Regions from separate parts of the Homo sapiens genome. Here region 2 is linked to region 1. Evidence: fine-mapped expression QTL. Tissue or cell type: prefrontal cortex. Region 1 holds a variant in brackets; the other region holds the start of a gene. All regions are shown on one strand. Distances are between the middles of the regions. Region 1 overlaps NUB1 (negative regulator of ubiquitin like proteins 1). Region 2 holds the start of NUB1 (negative regulator of ubiquitin like proteins 1).

Region 1 (12,072 bases):
CCCTTGGGGGCCTCTATAGCAGCATTCTGGAACTTGGACTCTAAGATCAATCTCTGAGAAAGGGTTCAGTAGCTTCTTATAATGAATGACTATGGGTCAAATTAATTTTAATTTTTCTGTTTTTAAGGGATGGTTTTGAGTAGGCTTCATTCTATGAGTTACTCTGTTTAAAATTAAAGATTAAAGTTTTTTTTTTTTTTTTCTTGAAAAGGAGTCTTACTCTGTTGCCCAGGCTGGAGTGCAGTGGTGCGATCTCAGCTCACTGCAGCCTTCGCCTCCCTGGTTCAAGCAATTCTCCTGCCTCAGCCTCCCAAGTAGCTGGGAGTACAGGTGTGCCCCACCATGCCTGGCTAATTTTTGTATTTTTAGTAGAGACGGGGTTTCGCCATGTTGGCCAGACTGTTCTTGAACTCCTGACCTCAGGTGATCCACCCACCTCGGCCTCCCAAAGTGCTGGGATTACAGGCATGAGCCACTGCGCCCGGCCGGATTAAAGTTGTTTTCATAACAGAACTGTGGATCAGTGTTTGAGTTATCAGTAGATTGATGTTTGTCTTTTTTTGTGTGTGTGTGAGGCGGAGTCTCGCTCTGTCATCAGGCTAGAGTGCAGTGGCACAATCTTGGCTCACTGCAACCTCCGCCTCCCGGGTTCCAGCGATTCTCCTGCCTCAGCCTCCTGAGTAGCTGGGACTACAGTGCACGCCACCATGCCCAGCTAATTTTTGTATTTTTAGTAGAGACGGGGTTTCACCATGTTGGCCAGATGGTCTCAATCTCTTGACCTCGTGATCCGCCTGCCTCGGCCTCCCAAAGTGCTGGGATTACAGGTGTGAGCCACTGTGCCCGGCCAATGTTTGTCTTTTGAAAATGATGATTACTTGCCCACTGCTCTCTTACATTGAATGACGACATCCAGATCTTTTTGGAAAACCTTTATCACAGGGGTTCCCACCCCACAGGCTGCAGATGGGTACCAGTCCGTGGCTTGTTAGGAACTGGGCCACATAGCAGGTGAGCAGCAGGCAAGTGAGCGTCACCGCCTGAGCTCCACCTCCTGTCAGATCAGCGGCGGCATTAGAGTCTTAGGAGCATGAACCCTATTGTGAACTGGGCATGTGAGGGATCTAGGCTGTGCACTCCTGATGAGAATCTAATGCCTGATGACCTGAGGTAGAATGTTTTCACCCTGAAACCATCTGCCTTCCTCCTTGTCCATGGAAAAATTGTCTTCCATGAAAGCAGTCCCTAGTGCCAAAAGGTTGGGACTACTGCTTTATCAGACTGAATTATGCGAACATTTAAATTGAAAAATCTAATGAACTTCAAAAAATTTTGGATCACCTTTTAAAAATTGTTTTGGGGCCGGGCGCGGTGGCTCACGCCTGTAATCCCAGCACTTTGGGAGGCCGAGGTGGGTGGATCACAAGATCAGGAGATCGAGACCATCCTGGCTAACACAATGAAACCCCATCTCTACTAAAAATACAAAAAAATTAGCCAGGCGTGGTGGTGGGCGCCTGTAGTCCCAGGTACTCGGGAGGCTGAGGTGGAAGAATGGCGTGAACTCGGGAGGCAGAGGTTGCAGTGAGCCGAGATCGCGCCACTGCACTCCAGCCTGGAAGACAGAGCGAGACTCTGTCTCAAAAAAAAAATAAAATAAAAAAATTTGTTTTGGAAATACTAAAGTTGACAAACAACTTCTGAAAAAACTAGATGATTAAGAATAGAAAGTGAGGCCGGGCACGGTGGCTCATGCCTGTAATCCCAGCACTTTGGGAGGCCGAGGCGGGCAGATCACGAGGTCAGAAGATCGAGACCATCCTGGCTAACACGGTGAAACCCTGTCTCTACTAAAAATACAAAAAAAAAAATTAGCCAGGCGTGGTGGTGGGTACCTGTAGTCCCAGCTACTTGGGAGGCTGAGGCAGGAGAATGGTGTGAACCTGGGAGGTGGAGCTTGCAGTGAGTCGAGATCGCGCCACTGCACTCCAGCCTGGGTGACAGAGCGAGACTCTGTCTCAAAAAAAAAAAAAGAATAGAAAGTGAAATGAATGCCCTTTTTAAAGATACAAGCAGCCGGGCACCGTGGCTCACGCCTGTAATCCCAGCATTTTGGGAGGCCAAGGCGGCACATCACCTGAGGTCGGGAGTTTGAGACCAGCCTGGCCAACATGGTGAAACCCCATCTCTACTAAAAATACGAAATTAGCCGGGCATGGTGGCTCATGCCTGTAGTCCTAGCTGCTCGGCAGGCTGAGGCAGGAGAATCGCTTGAACCCAGGAGGCAGAGGTTGCAGTGACCCGAGATCGCACCACTGCCCTCCAGCCTGGACGACAGAATGAGACTCCGTCTCAAAAAAATAAAATAAATAAAATAAAAATGATACAAGCATTACTGGCTGCTTTTTAATATGTTTAGTCTGAATAGAATATTAGAAGTAGAATCCAGATCAGTGGATACGAAAATAAACTAATGAAAGCAAAGGGCCAAGTGCTGGTTAGGATTGTATCAGCTATAATAAATGAAGTGTTTGGCTTCAGTATTTAAATGAAATAAAGCTTTAATTAATTATATTTTTCTTAATTTTGGCTTTTAGATTGAGTTATGATCTTGTTTTCATTTTTTTTACTTTGTTTTTTAAAAAGTAATATGCTTTTAATATAATTTGCCTTATTATATTTTAAAGTGATGTTTTTTAAATTTGTATTTTTTCCTAGGCCCTTATGTTAGCTATGGGATATCATGAGAAGGGCAGAGCTTTCCTGAAAAGAAAAGAATATGGAATAGCCTTGCCATGTCTGTTGGACGCTGACAAATATTTCTGGTAGGCGCTTTTGTACTTGGTGAACACCAGCTTTAAGGAAGATGGCCCAGACTATACAGAACACCCTGCCATGCCCTTGAGACTGCAGACTTTCATCTACAACAGTGGTTAATGTAAAAGAGTAGTTATGGTGTAAACTGGTGAATTTCTTCTTCCCTTTGTATTTCTAATTGACCTTTCCTCCCTGTAAAGAAAAGAATTTTCAAGCAGGTAGGATATCCTCTCTTCTTCTGTACATGTGCTATGTTGCTAGTCGGAACTTTCCATTATAAAGTTTCCTGTCAGCTTTTCACCTAATGGTTTTGGGGTAGTATTGATGATTATTCCTCAAATCCGTTGTTTAAGAGCTGTATAATGGTGATATTATTCCTTCTGTACTTATTTTTTTTGAGACAGAGTCTCACTCTGTCACCCAGGCTGGAATGCAGTGGCATGATCTCAGCTCACTGCAACTTCCATCTCCTGGGCTCAAGTGATCCTCCCACCTCAGCCTCCTAAGTAGCTGGGATCACAGGTGCACATCACCACAGGTGCACATCACCATGCCCAGATAATTTTTTTGTATTTGTTGTAGAGATGAGGTTTCACTATGTTGCCCATACTAGTCTCAAACTCCTGGGCTCAAGTGATCCACCCACCACAGCCTCTCAAAGTGCTGGTATTACAGGTGTGAGTCGCTGTGTCGGCTTTTTTTTTTTTTTTTTTTTTTTAATTATACAGATGGGGTCTCCCTGTGTTGCTCAGGCTGATCTTGAACTCCTGGACTCATGTGATCCTCCTGCCTTGGCCTCCCAAAGTGCTGGGATTACAGGTGTGAGCCACCGCACCCAGCCTCCCTTCTGCATTTATTGCTGGAATTCTGAAAAATTTGTTTTTGCTCATCAGTTATTTTATATGTGGAGGTACAATTTGTATAGGAAAGTTAGAATAAAATACTTTGTTTCTTTCTCCTTATTTTCTTGTTTTCAGAATAAATGAGTTGCTTCACTATCACCCTCCAAAGGTGACCAAAGAGGTTTCTTTTTCTTTTCATTTTCTTAAGTGTCATTATTAACTCATGGATTTAAAACATTTGATGTGTTTCAAACTTCAGTGCTTAAATTGGTCATGCTGGCTGGCAGGCAGCCCATGTTTTTTTGACCTGACCCTGCTAGTCTTTGCAGTCTCTGATTTCTGGAATCCAAAGATACTCCAGGCTCATCTTGGGCATTTAATGCCCAGACCAGGAATCAGCAATTTCCCAAGGAGTCCTGGTTCCTCTTCATGGGAAACGGTACTAAGAGACTATGATGCAGACATATTCAACATTTGAAAAGTAGACTTGATTTTTTGAAAATGGTCAAAAGTTAACAAATTTAGTGTTAACTTCTTTTCTGTTTTGGTGCATTCCCAAGATAATACTGTATACTCCCAGAAGATGAATGCAAATATTTATAGTTTTCCATTGGTCAGTGCCTTTGGGTTCTAAGTGAACAAGTCCCAACTTTAACGTACACAAAAAAGGAATTGGGAGGGGAGGGGCCGGGCTGGGAATAGTGAGAATGAGGGCTGGTTTGTGCTTCTGGGGTCTCTGTCTCTGCCTCTTTCTGGATGTCAGTTTCATTCTCTTCTGCAAACAGTGTAGGGTAAACAGGCTTTAAATTAGGTCCTAAAAGTTTAGGTAAATTTTTCATTCCCTTCCATAGTTGTTTCTAATTTTTTATTATGGAAAATTTCAAATAGTCATAAAAATAAAAATTAGTATAATGAGCTTCCATATACACTCATAACTAAGCTTCTGCAGTTATAAAGACATGGTTGATCTTCATACATCTGTGTGAGCCTCCCTCAATCTTTTTATCCTGGACAAATCCTTGAAATAATTTTTAGGTCTCAGGGAACCATTGAATACAAATTTGGCTACATCTTCAGTTCATGATACATTAACATGTCCGGTAAGTGGTAGGTATAATAATGAAATAATAATTAACAATGTCTTTCTAAGTAGAGAAAGTTTTTTTTTTCCTGGGCATCTATTTATCCTGGGCATCTATTTATCCTGGCCAACTTGTTAGCATATTTTTGTGTGTGTGTGATTTCTCTCTTTTCATAAAGGAAATCAGCAGTAATGTAAGCCAAATAGAATGCAGATGGAGGAAACTTCAGTTTTTCCATTTCCTTTTCCATTTGACTTTTCCCCCTTACTTCTCCAAGTAAGCTAGAAGTTTTGTCACAACTTCCTACCATATGTCTTGGAGTATGGTATGTAGTATGACCAAGAATAGTTTCTTTCCCCAAATTGTATGAAACAGTGACTTCCTGGCAGTGCAGAACGGTGACCCTGAGGTAGGGAAACATGAGGGGAGCTCAGTGTCTGGAGAAGTTTCAGGTTACGGGGCAGGGAGGGCAAACCCAGGCAGAGCCTTGTGCTCCCTGGAGTTAAAGAGATGGAGCTGGGCTTGCAGGAGGCCAAGGAGGTGAGAGGAGCAAGCTGCCAGAGAGAGGGTGTCAGAGAGCTTCAGAGGAGCCCTTTTGAGTCTTCTGCTCAGTAATGATCAGCACATGTGTGTGAGGAAACCGCCCAGGGCTGGGCAAGGTACCACATGAAAGAAGCAGGGAATAATCCTCCGAGTTCATAGAAGGCCAGGAATAGTTTATGTTCCCACCAGCCAGAGTGGAGGATTTGGTAGTCACAGGGCGTCAAATAGAGTCTTCAGAAGGGTGTTGCCTCAGCACTAGGGCATAATTTGGTTTCACTTAACAAAGCTTAAAAGCTACTCCTGAACAGTACCCTTAACTTACCGTTTTCAAATAAGTGCATCCCTAACAAAACTCAATAATTTAGCAATTCAAAAATATCCAGCATCCACTGAAAAATTAGCAGGCATGCAAAGAAACAAGCAAATGTAACCTATAACAAGCAAAAAAATCAGTCAGTAGCAACAGATCCAGAAGTGACACAGAAGATAGAATTAGTAGACAAGGACATTAAAACAGTGACTGTAATCCATCTGCTGAAGAAGGCAGAGGAACAACTGAACATGTCAGATAAAGACATGGGAGACATTCAAAAGACCCACATTAGAATGTAAGAGATGAAAAGTACAACATCCAAGATGAAAAGTACATTAGGTGGGATGAACTGCAGAATAGACACTATAGAAGAGAAGATTAGTTAAATGTTACATAAGGCAATAGAAACTATCTGAAAAAACAGAGAAAAGGCTAAAAAAAAAAAAAAATGAACAGAGCATCTGCAAGCTGTGGCACAATTTCAGGCGGCCTAAAATGCATGTAATTGGAGTCCCTGGAAAGGCAGACATGTGGGACAGAAACAATACTTGAAGAAAAAAATGGCCATTAATTTTTCCCAGTTTGATGAAAACTATAAACCCCCAGATGCAATGACTTTAATGACCCCAAGTACAAGAAATATCAGAAAAAAACTACACTACAGCACACTATAATCCAATTCCCTAAAACCAGTAATAAAATTGAAAATGACTTTTTAGCTAACCTTTCTTGAAAAAAGTTAGGTAAGTTTGGCTTATTTTTTTATTTTATTTTTTCAGACGGAGTCTCACTCTGTCGCCCAGGCTGTAGTGCAGTGACGCAATCTTAGTTTACTGCAATCTCCGCCCACTGTAACCTCTGCCTCCTGGGTTCAAGCGATTCTCCTGCCTCAGCCTCTCAAGTAGCTGGGATTACAGGTGCCCACTACCACTCCCGACTAGTTTTTGTATTTTTAGTAGAGACGGGGTTTCACTATGTTGGCCAGGATGGTCTTGAACTCCTGACGTCAGGTGATCCGTCCGCCTCAGCCTCCCAAAGTGCTGGGATTACAGGTGTGAGCCACCGCGCCTGGCCTAAAATTTTTATGTTAAATAAATATTAATTTCAAGAAAGGTAAGCCTGGCCGGGCGCGGTGGCTCACGCCTGTAATCCCAACACTATGGGAGGCCGAGGCAGGCAGATCACGAGGTCAGGAGATCAGACCATCCTGGCTAACAGGGCGAAACCCCGTCTCTACTAAAAATACAAAAAATTAGCCGGGCATGGTGGCAGGCGCCTGTAGTCCCAGCTACTTGAGAGGCTGAGGCAGGAGAATGGCAGGAACCCGGGAGGCGAAGCTTGCAGTGAGCCGAGATTGCACCACTGCACTCCAGCCTGGAGGAGAGAGCGAGACTCCGTCTCAAAAACAAAAACAAAAAAAAACAAAAAAAAAA[A/C]CAAAAAAACTGTAAGACAAACATAATAAATTTCTGTTAAATAACCGACTTAAGCTCAAATGGGATTTAATTTTTGTTGTTGTTGTTTTTGAGACGGAGTCTCGCTCTGTCGCCCACGCTGGAGTGCAATGGCACGATCTCGGCTCACTGCAACCTCCGCCTCCTGGGTTCAAGCAATTCTCCCACCTCAGCCTCCCGAGTAGCTGGGATTACAGGCACCCGCCATCATGCCCCGCTAATTTTTGTAGAAATGGGGTTTCACCATGTTGGCCAGGCTGGTCTTGACCCTCTGACCTCAGGTGATCTGCCCGCCTCGGCCTCCCAAAGTGCTGGGATTACAAGCGTGAGCCACTGTGCCTGGCCAGGATTTAATTTTTTGAAAGCTAGGCTCAGTAGATTTTATTTAAATAAATATTTTACGTTTATTTTAATATCGTCAGCATGAAAATGTAACAGTGTTGAATATTAATGCTACTAAAATTGTAAACCAAAGCAATGTTAATAAAAGTACACTCTAAATGAAATTTTTTATTTTTATAATTTTTTTTTTTTCTTTAGAGACAGAGTCTCTATGTTGTTCAGGCTGGTCTCAAACTCTTGGGTTCAAGTGATTTTCCTGCCTCGGCCTCCCAAAGTGCTGAGATTACAGGTGTGAGCCACCACACCCAGCCTTCTAAATGCAATTTATACCAGGCTTTAAGAAACCACTTTGCCCCAAGCAAATGATCAGGTTTAAATATAGTTTTATATATAATAATAAGTGTTGATTTCTCAAAACTAAAAGGATGACATGTACCCCTCTAATATGAGACCTCTGCTTTGGGTTTTTTGTGTGTTTGTTCATTTTGTTGGTTTTCTTCTCTCTCTTTTTTTTTTTTTTGGCTGCACAAATAAATACTCACTCCTGGGTCAAACTTGAGATAAGTGCATATTGATTTTATTTTTAACTGACATGAGGCCATTTCTGCCCACGCTCTTGATGCTTAGTAAAACATGAACGAGCCTGTTAAAGCAACATGCAGGAGATGGAGAAGTTCGGCCACATGCCCATTGCTTTCCTGCGAGTGGCAGGAGAGTCTTCTGTCACTGGGACCAGAATGTGCCTAGAGGCAGGAAATCTCAACACGACTGTGAGATCAGACCACAATCCACAAAGCGCTGCTGTTTCTCTCAAAGGCAGGTTCTCAGGCTGAGCCGTAGATTTGGAGAAAGCACCCCTCACCCAGCTCCACATCTGTGTGTCTGCGTGCACACGTGTGTAAAACATGGTGTATGTGTTCTCAAACATTCACGAAATTAGAAATGTTGAGAGAGATGAAAATAAATATAAAAATACTGCTGTGATACATTTTTCTTGCCGCACCCACAACTGGACTGTGTACATGGGCCCTCTTTAGGAGACTACTGTTTTAAAGAGTAAATGACAAAATTAAAGTCCTTTTTTTTTTATTCCATGCATATTTTGATAGGCAGGACAGGAAGCTTGAGGCCATGTGGATTTTGTAGTTTTATACAAGAGCATTCTTATTTTTAGTAGAACACCAATGAACATAAAGAGAGAAAACCTTGTTCATATACAATGTGTGGTTCCAAATGTTCTTATTGAAGACTTGAGACCTAGATTGGCATTAGGAATTTTTAATGTAATCATAACTTAAAATTAGTCACCTTGATGGCTGTCTTTGTCAGTGCTCCTCCTGGAGCACACTGACTTCTGTTGCTGTCTTTCTTCCCTTTGCTGCGCCTGGGTTCAGCCTGCTGCCACGAATACGGAGTCAAATTTTGCCTGCACACAGGCCCTCAGAAATCAGCTGGGCCGTTAGAGCCTGGTGCTTTCTGGATTGTTTTTCCCCCAGCTTGAATATGATTGAACATGAATGCCTTGTCAGAGCCGTCATCAGCTGAGGCATTCATAGTACGTAGGGATTTTTTTGGTGTCTTTAAAGAAGTGGTGTTCAGCCCTGGCTGTACACTAGAATCAGCTGGGGAGACTCTGGCAGTATAACCACCAGGCCCAACCCCCAGAAATTTCTGTTATGTTTGGTCTGGGTGGGATCAATGATTCTTAAAGAAAGAAAGAAAGAAAGAAAGAACGTTGCTCTGGCCCAGGTGATGCTGATTTGCAGTCAGGATTGGAAGTCACAGCTTTAAAGCATGGTCTTCCCCGTATTTGCTGAGGGCCTCTGAAACAGTGGCCCTGGGTTCTGCTTCCTATCAAGGGGCTGCATGTGTGTCCTGGGGCAAGTGGTGGTAAGCTTTGATTCCTAAGCCCTGATTTCTGATTTCTCTTTCTTTCCCCCATTAGAAGGATGAGATTATAAACACAGCTCCCTTCCTAAACATTAGGATCTCTCTTTTAGAGCAGTCAGCCTTTGAATATATACCAAGAACGGGGAAAGAATTCCAGTCATTCACAAAAAGGTTTCAAATGCTAAAAATGTTTCAAATGCTGCTTGGCAGTGATGTCACTGTCCTTCTCTTTCCAGTGAGTGTTGCAGAGAGCTGCTGGACACAGTGGATAACTACGCCGTCCTCCAGCTGGATATAGTGTGGTGTTACTTCCGCCTGGAACAGCTGGAATGCCTTGATGATGCAGAAAAAAAATTAAACTTGGCCCAGAAATGCTTTAAAAATTGTTACGGAGAAAATCATCAGAGACTGGTCCACATAAAAGTATGTTCCTGGAATTCATCTTATGTCTCGTTGAGTCCATTTCTAGCATTTGTGTTTATTCCTGTTAAAGTATTTGAACTACTGCCAGAAGGTAATTTCATTTTGATAGTAGTATGCAGTATAGTCTTTTTAAACTATATATTTATAAAGTGTTCAATGTTTTACAAATCTGGCTGTCTCTCTTACTTAGCGTGTGAGCATTTAGCCCAAAGGAACATGGTTTGCTAGTCATAGAACCCCATCAGTGATCACCCTGACCAGGAGAGAGCTGCTGACTTCTTTATATCGGTAGAGTCTAATTTGCAAGATGTAAATGCAGAAAATAGACATTTCAGCAGTAATGGTTTACGTGAATGAGTCACAGCTCAAGAGCTGTGGCTCGAGTAAGGATTTTTCTGATTTCCCCAAGTCATCAAAATCCTGCTGATGCAGACTCTCTGATACCTGGTTTGGATTTCTGCATACTTCTCTGCTGACCAGAAGGGCCACTGTGCTGCATGTCTGGAGGCTGGTGCCCTGACACTGACTCTCCTGTGTGGCATGAGGAATGTTATCATACCACAGGGGATGGGGAAGAGGGGGCTTCACTTTTGCCGTCAGTCATAGTGAAGCCATGGACATTTTAATACCTATCATGTTGCCCCTCTGGAGACCAAGGGAATGACAGAGATGAGTATTATAGACCTGTAATTAGAAATAAGGCAATTTTATCCTTTTTTTCTTCAATAATTTTAGGGAAATTGTGGGAAAGAGAAGGTACTGTTTCTAAGACTCTACTTACTTCAAGGGATCCGAAACTATCACAGTGGAAATGATGTAGAGGCTTATGAGTATCTTAACAAGGTAAGAAAAGTAAAGTTGTAACCAATTTTCACCTCCTTTTAAAAAACATTCCCAGAAGTTAAGGATTTTAACTTAGTAGTTTGTGACTTGTGAGAAACATGCCTGTGCTTTCTCCGTGCACAGGAGATGTTGAACCAGAAACATATTTGTATATGTTAGAGTACAGCCAGATGCTGTAATGAGACTTCAAAAAGACAGTGACTTTAATTGGATAGAAGTTTATGGCTCACTCATCTTGCCGTCTAGAGGTGAGCCAGGCCGGAGCAGTGAGCAGCCCGCCAGCCTCAGCGAGGCGTCCTAGGTTGCTCCTGTCAGTGCCTCTTCCAGCCAGCAGAGGGGGCAAGAGAGAGTCCAGAGCAGGCCACTGGAGAGATGACCCCGCAGCTGCACCCAGCGCTGTGGCTGCATGCCATTGACTTCGACTTCACTACCTGGCTACACCCAGCTGCAAGGGAGGGTGAGAAATGCCACGTGCACAGCTGAAATTCGGGGGCTTTTGTTGCAAAAACAAAGTGGTTACCAGTCACTTCTGCAACACCCAGCCTCTTACCTCGTGTTGTGCTGTGGCTAAGTTATGTGAGTAGAGGTAGTGTTGGTCTGTTTCCATTTGTACTTGTTAATAACAGGCCTAGTTTAGAGATTTTATCCAAAATCTGATGCCTTTTAATTCACATTGGATACAATCTAATTTCTTTTAGGCTTTCACTTTGTATTAAGCTTTAAGTATTGCCGTGGTTACATGATTCTTACATTTCCCTGTCTCTAGGCACGTCAGCTCTTTAAAGAGCTATATATTGATCCATCAAAAGTGGACAATTTGTTGCAGTTGGGGTTTACTGCCCAGGAAGCCCGGCTTGGCCTGAGGGCGTGTGATGGGAACGTGGATCATGCGGCCACTCATATTACCAACCGCAGAGAGGTACCCACTTTCACATGCCCTAGCTCTCTTGGGTATGAAAGAACAAAAAAAGATAATCCCACAGGAGTGTTAATAACCAGGAACTCTTTATTACTCCAGATTGGGAAGGAAGGAGAAACTTGTCCTTTTTTTTTTCTTGAGACAGAGTCTCACTTTGTCATCCAGGCTGGAGTGCAGTGGCACGATCTTGGCTCACTGCAAGCTCCGCCTCCCGGGTTCAAGCAATTCTCGTGCCTCAGCCTCCTGAGTAGCTGGGATTACAGGTGTGTGCCACCACACCTGGCTAATTTTTGTATTTTTAGTAAAGATGGGGTTTCACCATGTTGGCCAGGCTGTTCTCAAACTCCTGACCTCAAGTGATGCGCCCACCTCAGTTTCCCAAAGTCCTGGGATTACAGGTGTGAGCCACCGCGCCTGGCCGAAACTTGTCTTTTTCAATTGGATCATTTTTCACATGCTGCAGTCTCCTTAGTTTTGTTTCCTGCTGTGGTGGCAAACGGTCCCCTCTCTCTCTTTCTTTAACACCATAGTGTATTTCTGGAAGTCATTTTAAAAACAAAATTGTTTTTTCATGAGGTCATTATTAAAGTTGGGGATTGCATCCTTG
Region 2 (10,173 bases), 21 kb before region 1:
AGCTGGGACTACAGGCATGCGCCACCACGCCCAGCTAATTTTTGTATTTTAATAGAGACAGGGTTTCACCATGTTAGCCAGGATGGTCTCAATCTCTTGACCTCGTGATCTGCCCACCTTGGCCTCCCAAAGTGCTGGGATTACAGGCGTGAGCCACCGCTCCTAGCCCATAAATAATTTTTTAACATGCTGTTTGGAGACATAGTAATTTTATTCAGCATCTTAGTTGGATATGAAGAACATGGAAGAAAGAGAAATCAAGTTAGTGGTGAGGAAAAGTTGTTCACATCTGATTGGGAATCCAGAATTTCAATCACCCAAACAGATGATAGAAGCTAAAAGAAGTTACAAGGTCATTGCATAGGAGGATTACTCTGATTCCTAGGAAACATGGGCTAGGATGCCTTATTTCAGTGGAGGTCATGAATTCCTGTTGCCATAGTCACTGTGAGAAAGGGCTTGGCCTTCTCACCTGTGATTCAGGTAGAATCATTCTGGAAGCATGTAATCAGTCCTCAAATTTTGTGTTCTGGTTTTGAATCTCTGACATATTCTGGTCCAAATTTTTTAACCCAGGTTCATTTGTCTCAATAGTTGGGTAGGTGCAGCTGGGCGCGGTGGCTCACACCTGTAATCCCAGCACTTTGGGAGGCCAAGGCGGGCAGATGACGAGGTCAGGAGATCGAGACCATCCTGGCTAACATGGTGAAACCCCGCCTCTACTAAAAATACAAAAAATTAGCCGGGCATGGTGGTGGGTGCCTGTAGTACCAGCAACTTGGGAGGCTGAGGCAGGAGATTGGCGTGAACCCGGAAGGCGGAGCTTGCAGTGAGCTGAGATTGTGCCACTGCACTCCAGCCTGGGTGACAGAGCAAGACTCCGCCTCAAAAAAAAAAAAAAAAGTTGGGTAGGTGATACACTTACTCTAACAAGATAAAAAAATAAGGAGAGAGATGATAAATAAATAAATCCGTGGTATTAGTACTACTGAATTAAGTTCAGGATCATCTGTTTGTGTTTTATCCGTGTTTGTTTTTTAACCCCTTTTAATGTTAAAAAGAATTCGATATACAATATTAGTCATGTGACTTTAAGTTTAAGGGTGAATAAAAACTAAGGTGACCTTGGAAGTAAGAAGGTGGCTACTCATCACTGTAGGCTTACCATCTGAGAAACCTCCATGGGAGGCCAGAATAACTTACTTCTTTTGCTTTTTTAAACTTAATTCCAGAAGACATCACATATGCATGACAAAGATAAAAGCACAAGTCTGCACCATTTCTGTGTTCTCAATAAATCTTATTGCCTAAAATATTAAGGAACGTTGAACTAAACATGTGTATTTTCTTTTAGCACATTAAAGATGCCATTCCATTGTCTTCTGGATTTATTGTTTCTGAAGTCAGCTGACAATCTTAAAAGGCAATGCATCTTTTCCCCGGCACCTTTTTTTTGTTTAATTAAATTAAATTAATTTTTTTTTTTTTGAGATGGAGTCTCAATCTGTTGCCCAGGCTGGAGTGCAATGGTGCAATCTTTGCTCACTGCAACCTGCATCTCCCAGGTTCCAGCGATTCTCCTGCCTCGGCCTTCCAAGTAGCTGGGATGACAGGCGCCCTCCACCACAGCCAGCTAAGTTTTGTATTTTTAGTAGAGACGGGGTTTCATCGTATTCGTCAAACTCATCTCGAACTCCTGACCTCAGGTGATCCACCTGCCTCAGCCTCCCAAAGTGCTGGGATTACTAGCGTGAGCCACCGTACCTGGCCCTGGCACCTTTTAAGATTTTATCTTTTTCCTTGGTTTTCAATGGTTCTACTAGAATGCACTGGGTGTGGCTGATTTTGTATTTATCCTGCTTAGGAGTCATAGAACTTACAGAATTTGTAATTTGATGTCTTTCATCAGTTTTGCGAAACTTGGACTCTTGGTTATTATCTTTTCAAATATTGTTTCTGCCCCTTTCTCTCTTTTTCTAGAAACCTGAATACCTGGTAGAACTTTTCATCATGTCCCATGTGTCTCTAATGCTTGTTTCTGTATTTTCCATTCTTTCCTTCTATGCTTCAGTTTGGATATTTTCTATTGATGTGCCTGCAGTTCACTAATCGTGTCTTTAGTTTTGTCTAACATCCAGAGTTCACAGCCTCATTTATTACACTTTTCACCTCTAGAGTTTTCATTTGATTTATTTTTATAGATTTCAATACTCAGGTGAAAATTTTCATCTTTTTTTCTGTTTTCTTGAAAATGTTCATCAGAGTTATTTTAATCAGGCAACTCCAATATCTGACTCATCTGTGGGTCTGTTTCTATTGTCTTTTTCTTTTTTTATCTAGTAACTTTTTAATGAGATGCCAAATATAGCTTCTAAAAAGTTGTAGAGGCTTCAAATGTTATCATTCTCTCAGGAGGGTTTTTCCCTTTCCTCCACAAAACCAAAGACAGGAGTGGCCAATAACCTTAATCCAATCAGGGACTGCATGGAGTGAAGGCTGGGCTGAGGTTCTGGTAGGGTTCAAGCTACCGTTGCCCTCCAGTTTCCAACTGGGAACATGGTGTAGGCTCTGCAGTAACCCACTTCCACCACCACCCTAGCAGATCTCAGACTCGAATCTTTGTTTTGCAAGTCTATCAAAAACTTCTGCTTTCAGAGGCCTTCCATTTACATTTCAGTTTCTTGCCCCATACAAGCCTTGAATTCAGCAATTGTCCTTGGAATTTCCCCCTACATCGCTGTGTTGGTTTTGTGTCCCCAGCAGTGGCCCTCTGTGGTCTCAAAGTCTAAATTCTCAGCCTCATGCTTGTATCCAGAACTGGCAAAAGCCCTCACACACCAATACAAGCCACTGCAGACATTAGCTCACCCCTTGAAGGTTCCTCATTCTCTGGAATATCAAGTCCCCCCATTCTTGCCTCAGCAGCTTTCACTGCCTTCAAACAGATGTTTTCTGACTTCGCTTTCTGGCTTTTCTAGTTGTTGTTAGTGGGAGCCTTGGTCTACTGCAAGCTGCTCCATCACACCTGAGCGTGGACATTCAATTTCCTGATGGTCTACTACGTAAATGTAAAAGTGAAACTATCTTTGTTACTCATCTCAGAGAAAGCCCTCAGAAAAAAATGTCAGAACAGTTTCTGTTGTCCTTCTACCTTGCTGCAATTGCTACTGAGCAATCAACGGGCTTTTTCCTGATGTGCTAGAAGCCAACACCATGGCACGGGCTTTTGAGAAAAGAAAGGCTTTATTGTGAGTTGACTGTCAAGGAGACATGAGGAAACCCTCAGCTCTGTCTCCTTGAGCTTGGGGCTGGGTTGGGTTTTATAAGCATAGGGTAATGACGCATGATCGGATTAGATTTTGCGATGAGGTGATGCTGGGATGCTCATCTGACTGGACCCTGCCATGGGGTGACACCAGGGCTTGATCTGATTGCATTCTGGATCTCACCATGCAGTGCCCATTTCTTAATTCAGTCCCTGCTTTGATCTGAGCACTCAGGTTCCGCCCCTGGTTGCATGCTTGGTTCACCTGGGCATCCTCAGGTTACGTGCGAAACCTTCCATCTGGGAGTCCATGCAACTGAAAAACAACTCACAACTTGGGTATATAAAAGGCGAATCAGATTGGTCTGGTGCGGTTATACAGTTATTAATATCCCTTTGTCAGAAGTCAAAATTACCACAAATTTAGATTAAAGATCTATTGGTTTTTATTGATTCATGAATCAGGATGGCATCTTCTCTGAAAATTTAGAAACGGTGCTCCAACGAGCTGGGCAGAGGAGGTGGGCTTTATAGGTAGAAAAGGGCTAAAGAAAGCAGCAACAGGGAACGAAAAACGGATTGGTCACTGCAAGGTTACAGGAGTCCCCTCTCGTCCACACACAGGTGGTGTGTCCCAAGACCCACAGTGGATGCCTGAAACCTCGGATAGTACTGCACCCCATTTTACATACACACACATATATATATACTATATATATACACACACTTCATTTTTCCTATACATACGTACATACCTACGATAAAGTTTAATTTATTAGGCACAGTAAGAGATTAACAGCAATAACTGATAATAAAATAGAAGCGTCACTGTTGAGCACAGCCTTGGGAATAGGACCTTGGAAGTAGGCAGAGCTCCCTAGGCCTTGTGGTCCCTAGTGGCCGTGGACAGCATGGGGGAGGAAATTCCCGGGAAGCAGCCTAATTTCACCCCAGGGAAGCCCCTGGTGGGCTTGTGGAGGGCGGGGTGAAAAGCCGCTGGTTTAGGGAAGGGGTCCAGCCTAGGCTGAGGAATGAGATGCGGGTTGGGACGGTCCCGACCCTTCCCCCAGCCTCTTTCAAGGATTCTGGAGAAACAAAGCCAGGATCCATTTCCTCTTGATGGCTGGCAAACTGAGCCCGGGCGGGAAGTCCTGGAAGACTGAGCCTGGGGTGGCGTTGGACACCAACTCCCAGGTCCTCGCCCCACACGGCCACATCCTCGCCCAGCCCCGCCTCCGCTTAGCTCCGCCCCGTCGCGGCTCCGCCCCGCGGTAACCACGCCCACACAACCGTATCCCCGCCCACAGCTGGCTTCGCCTTGGCCCCGCCCACAACCCTCTTTCCAAGCGGCGGCGGCGGCGGCGGCGCGAAGGCGACAGCGGCGGCGGGGGCGGGGCTGGCCTCACCCGGAATGAAAACAAACGGCGGCCGCTGCCGCATCCGGGCACTCTGCTGGTCGCGGCGGGAGTGGCGTGGCGCAGGTGAGGACACGGCGGCCGAGTGTCCTCGACCCCAGCCTCAGCAGCACTGCTTGGCGCCCCGGTTCCCGGTCCGACTGGGCACCTCTCCTGGCCAGGGGTGGAGCGGCCGCGGGGCGGGGGTGAGCAGCCATGCGTGGAGCTGGGCCGGGGCCGGGGCCGGGGCCGGGAGCGGTGGGCCGGGCTTCGGGACGCGCTGGCCGTTCGGGGCCCTTTGGTTTGCCCTGAGTTAGGCAGAGGTGTGGGGTATTTAAAAGAAAATATTGAGTGTATCGGTTTGGGGAGAGAAAGGAATAAATATGTCTATAAAAAATTAGCCAAATGCTATACTTGAATCGTAACACTCCGAGTATACCATTTGGGATTTATTTGCAATCAAAGCCAGATTTTCTTTGCTATTTAATGACAAGACACTTGATTTTCTCGAACCTTGACGACCTGATTCTATCATTCTCACCTCCTTCCCTTTTATTTTTAATCAAGAATCTTTCATTTTCCTAAGAAAAAATGAATGTGTCTTGACTAGATATAGTTGTGTTTCAACTATATATAATGTATACTTGAAAAGGTGTGGCTAAATGTAGCAATGATCGATTCATTACAAAAGTGAAAGTGAAATTTTTAAAGGATCGTTATAACGTTTCACTTTCTGCTTGGACCACGGAGTGATATTAATGAGTTTCGTCTTTTCTTAGTTACAATGTGAAACATTGTATGGCATGCATGAAACTTTTTCAGTTCTCATTTCAGTTAAAATTAAAAACTGACTTATTAAACTTGACTTAAAATATGTCGCCACTTACTCTGTTGTCTATAACTGAAGTTCCTTAAGTTTCAAGACAGTGGTTTAATTTTTTTTTAACATTAAATCTTATTCGGTGTAACCCTGGAGCTCTTGTTTGCTCCCTGGAGTGTCTGACACGCACTGGGTTTGTAACACTCCTTCGTCCTTCTGTCAAGTGGTGGCTTGGATGGCATCTTTTTAAAAATTTTTTATTTGTTTATTTTTTTAGTAGAGACGGGGTTTCACCATGTTGACCAGGCTGGTCTTGAACTCCTGACCTCAGGTGATCCACTGGCCTCGGCCTCCCAAGTGCTGGGATTACAGGTGTGAGCCACCGCGCCCGGCCTTGGATGGCATCTCTGAGTACCGCATCAGCCTTTCAAATTGCTTGGCTCCAGTAACCAGCCTGTGAAATTACTGTCCCCCAGTGGGGAGACAGTAGGGTTGCTGTGATATTTTATTCAGAATTTCTGAAGATTCATGAGTAGTATGTAAAGTAGTTTTTAAAGTTATTTGTGTTTGAAAAGCTAACGCTCTAAGTACTAATATGCTTTGCTGTGATAAGCCGTTTGTCAGTGCTTGAAAAATGGAGGATTCTCCCATGGGCCACCCAGGTTGCACACAGCAGCCTCATTGGCTGTGTTATTCCTTCCTCTCTTTTCTCCTCCCTGTCCTGATTAGCCTAATTCTTGTCCCCGCACTGACATAAAATAGATTTGAACTTTCTTTTAAAAAATATTTGTTTATGAAATACACAAGCTACCAAAGTTTTCAAAGATTTCAAAGTTGTGTGAATTGGGTTTGGGGGGATGTGGAATACTGGCCCTCAATAGAAGAAAGAAATTTATCTTGGTAATATTAACTCATATTTTTTCCACTCTCTAGAACTTGTCTTCATCATTCAGGGGCTAATAACATTTTTCTTTACTTATTGCTTGTCTGATTTGGGAAACCTTAAAGCGCTGTGCTACACCTGCCAGCTGCCTTACATCTCAGCCGCCTCACTCACCTTTGAATTGCTGTGCTAGTATGGGATGAGTAGACAGCTCCATCGCGGTACATACTTCTCTGGGAGAGAGAAGTTACATACCTGGAACAGGCAAGCAGCAAGGGACTCCATGACGGAAGTTCAGAGTCCAGTGTTGTGGGTGGAAGTTGTGCTCGTTAAGATGCTGCCTAATTTTGTGTCTTTGCCTGAGTCATGGTACAAACTCAGGGCCCTAATTTTCTCAGCTGTAAAATGATCCGATCAGTGTTAGATTTGAATAGTAGGGCCAGGCGCGGTGGCTCAGGCCTGTAATCCCAGCACTTTGGGAGGCCGAGGCGGGCGGATCACAAGGTCAGGAGATTGAGACCATCCTGGCCAACACGGTGAAACCCCATCTCTACTAAAAATACAAAAAATCAGCCGGGCGTGGTGGCGGGCGCCTGTAGTCCCAGCTACTGGGGAGGCTGAGGCAGGAGAATGGCGTGAACCCGGGAGGCGGAGCTTGCAGTGAGCCGAGATTGTACCACTGCACTCTAGCCTGGGCGACAGAGTGAGACTCCCTCTCAAAAAAAAAAAAAAAAAAAAAAAAAAAAAAAAAGTAGATGTGCTGTTAGGCTGTTAATCAGAAAATATGCAAAATTTTCCTAGTATTGTAATCTTTTTAATTTAAAAAATTCTGACATAGAAAATATTTATATATTTATTATTATTTTGAGACGGAGTCTCACTCTGTTGCCCAGGCTGGAGTGCAGTGGTGCCATCTCGGCTCACTACAACCTCTGCCTCCTGGATTCAAGCGATTCTCCTGCCTCAGTCTCCCGAGTAGCTGGGATTACAGGTACCTGCCACCACGCCCGGCTAATTGTTCATATATTTTTTTTTTTTTAGTAGAGATAGGGCTTCACCATGTTGACCAGGCTGGTCTCGAACTCCTGACCTCAGCTCCTGAACTCAGCCTCCCAAAGTGCTGGGGTTACAGGCCTGAGCCACCACACCCATCCGAAAATATTTATTATCGATAGTTTACAGTTCAAGCAAGCTTTTCTTTATATTTAACTACCAGGATGGTTGGCCTTTTGTTTTATGTTAAACTAGCCAAAGTATGAGAGAATTTACAAGCTCACGCCTGTAATCCCAGCGTTTTGAGACCAAGGTGGGTGGATCACTTGAGGTCAGGAATTCGAGACCAGCCTGGCCAACATGGCGAAACCCCGTCTCTACTAAAAATATGAAAATTAGCCGGGCGTGGTGGCGCATGCCTGTAATCCCAGTGAGTAGGGAGGCTGATGCAGGGGAATTGCTTGAACCCAGGGGGCGGAGCTTGCAGTGAGCCGAGATCGCACCACTGCACTCCAGCCTGGGCGACAGAGCGAGACTCCGTCTCAAAAAAGAAAAAAAGAAGTTCACGACTCGAGGGATTTATCTTTCTCTTATTTTCTCTTTTCTCTTAGATAAGAGAATAGCAGATTAAGAAATAGAAACATGTAATAATCCTTGCTACATATTAGCAACTTTGAAATACATATTTTATATATGTAATATATATAATTGAACATATATTTCTATATATATTTTTAGAGAAGTCTGGAGCTCATTTAAACCATAGTAATTTATATTTAATGACAGAGGAAGGGAGCTTTGCTTACCCAACAAAGCACCTTAACATGTAGGTAAGTTATTAACATTTTAAAATGCGATGTGGAGTTTTATTAATGTATTGTTTTGCTTTCAGGGATGGCACAAAAGAAATATCTTCAAGCAAAATTGACCCAGTTTTTAAGGGAAGACAGGATTCAACTTTGGAAACCTCCATATACAGATGAAAATAAAAAAGTTGGTTTGGCATTAAAGGTATTTTTCTTTTAAGACATCAATAATTAGCAGCATTATAAATCTCCTTGGTAAATAAGATTCTGAATTGTCAGGCATGACCATATAAACTTTTGGCATAACCAAAAGCATTAGTGGTGAGCGGGTACCCACTTTTTACTAGGAACTGACAACCTTATTTTTGTTCATTAATATTTTATTCACATGAGGATGTTATCTAATTTTTCAGGCATATATTTTTAATACCATCACAGGATTACATAACATTATTTATCTGGAACTCATTTTGACCCATTAGTGGAACAGTATTGGTGCCAGTAAGTAATTGCATTGTGTGTTCAAAGTGACAGTGTCTTGGCTCATTCTCGGTCCTCCTTGCTATCATCATCTGCTGTGAAACAATTGCTCCTTTTTCCCCCAGTTTTTTTGATGCTCTCACTATCAGTGTTCATTTTTCCAAAATAGGTTTTTTCTAACAGTTGTATCTCAGTTTTTCATGGCATCATCAGAAATGATATTGTATGTAAGTGATGTTTCTAGAAACTGAAGTCTGCTTGCTTTTCTAAGCAGAGAAACAGTACTCATTTTTGCCAGAAATCTATCATACTGGAATTTCCTAGCATGTACTTCTCTGCTCTCATTCAGAGTATCCTGAACATGATGTAACATTTATCAGGGACTAAGGATTGTCATGAGGCATTAAATTGCTCTGTGTTGTGACATAATGATGTGCTTGGGAGGTGACAAACTGTATTAGGGTCCTAGTTCTTCTGTTTCTTCTGTTCCAGGCAGGCCTCACTTTTTCTTTGCAACCCACCTTCTGACCTTGCTTCTGAATTTATTGTTACAGTCTCTTGGTTTAGAAACTAGGTGTGGCATAAAGGAAAAATATTTGACCTTTGTCCCTGGTTCCTGGCAGAGCCAAAACTCTTGGGATTTCCTAAGTGGTAAGCATGATAGGAGCAACCTTTGTGCTCATGAGGCTTGGTTGCCCCTAGATAGCTTCAGGATGGGGCTGGTCACCAAAAGTACCAAGCCGTGATTAGACACTTGAAACTTTCCACCCTCCCCTCCAACCTCTGGGAAGGGGAGATTGAGCTGATGACTAATACTAATGGTCAGTGATTTAATCAGGCCTGCATAATGAAACTTCCATACAAACCCCTAAGTGACAGATTTTGGACAGCTTCCAAATTGGTGAACACATCCACATGTCGGGATGTACACCCCCAACTCCATGGGACAGAGGCTTCTATGCTCAGGACCCTTCCAGACCTTGCCTTAGTACCTCTTCATGTGAATGGTTATTTGTATCCTTTGTAATGAACTATATTCATAAGTATACCATTTTCTGGAGTTCTGTGAGTTGTTCTAGCAAATCATGGAACCTGAAGGGGGTGCTTGTGTGAACCCTCGACTTTGTAGCTAAGTCAGACAAAAGTATGGGTAACCTGGGGACCAGATACTTGGTAACTGGTATCTGAAGTTAGGGCTTTTTTGTGGGCTGAGCCCTTAAACCTGTGGAGTCTAACGCTAACTCTGGGTAGTTAGTGTCAGAATTGAATCGTAGGACTTCCAGTTGGTGTCAGAATTGGCTGGTGACAGGAGGAAGAAAGAAATCCTCACTAGTTAGGTTTTCTAGAAAATTATAGAAAGTTTTTAAAAAAGTATTTATAATATATATTCTAGGTTTTAAAAAGTATGTATATAAATACAAAAATATAAAGAATGTATTTTTAAAATATGTTAAACATCGTTAACATAGGTATATTCTTCCTCTTTTCCTACGTAACTATTAAAAAAATGTATTGCTGGACACAGTGGCGCA

Evidence for each region.
Region 2: NUB1 starts here. The variant in region 1 is fine-mapped to the expression of NUB1 in prefrontal cortex (ROSMAP, PIP 0.95).

The regions. Positions count from the first base shown.
Region 1 is chr7:151,357,423-151,369,494 of GRCh38, forward strand. NUB1 (negative regulator of ubiquitin like proteins 1) reads left to right here. Exons shown (of 15, transcript NM_001243351.2): 8 at 2,719-2,825; 9 at 9,517-9,703; 10 at 10,439-10,546; 11 at 11,313-11,465. It also overlaps a transcript of WDR86 not described here. Among named protein-coding and RNA genes, the nearest start is that of NUB1, 22 kb to the left of the region's middle. The variant A/C (reference allele first, on the strand shown) is at 7,031.
Region 2 is chr7:151,337,101-151,347,273 of GRCh38, forward strand. It overlaps NUB1 (negative regulator of ubiquitin like proteins 1), which reads left to right and starts at 4,712. Exons shown (of 15, transcript NM_001243351.2): 1 at 4,712-4,746; 2 at 8,248-8,366. The coding sequence starts at 8,250. RefSeq lists enhancers at 2,984-3,043, 3,174-3,263, 4,333-4,834 and silencers at 4,432-4,631, 4,802-4,981.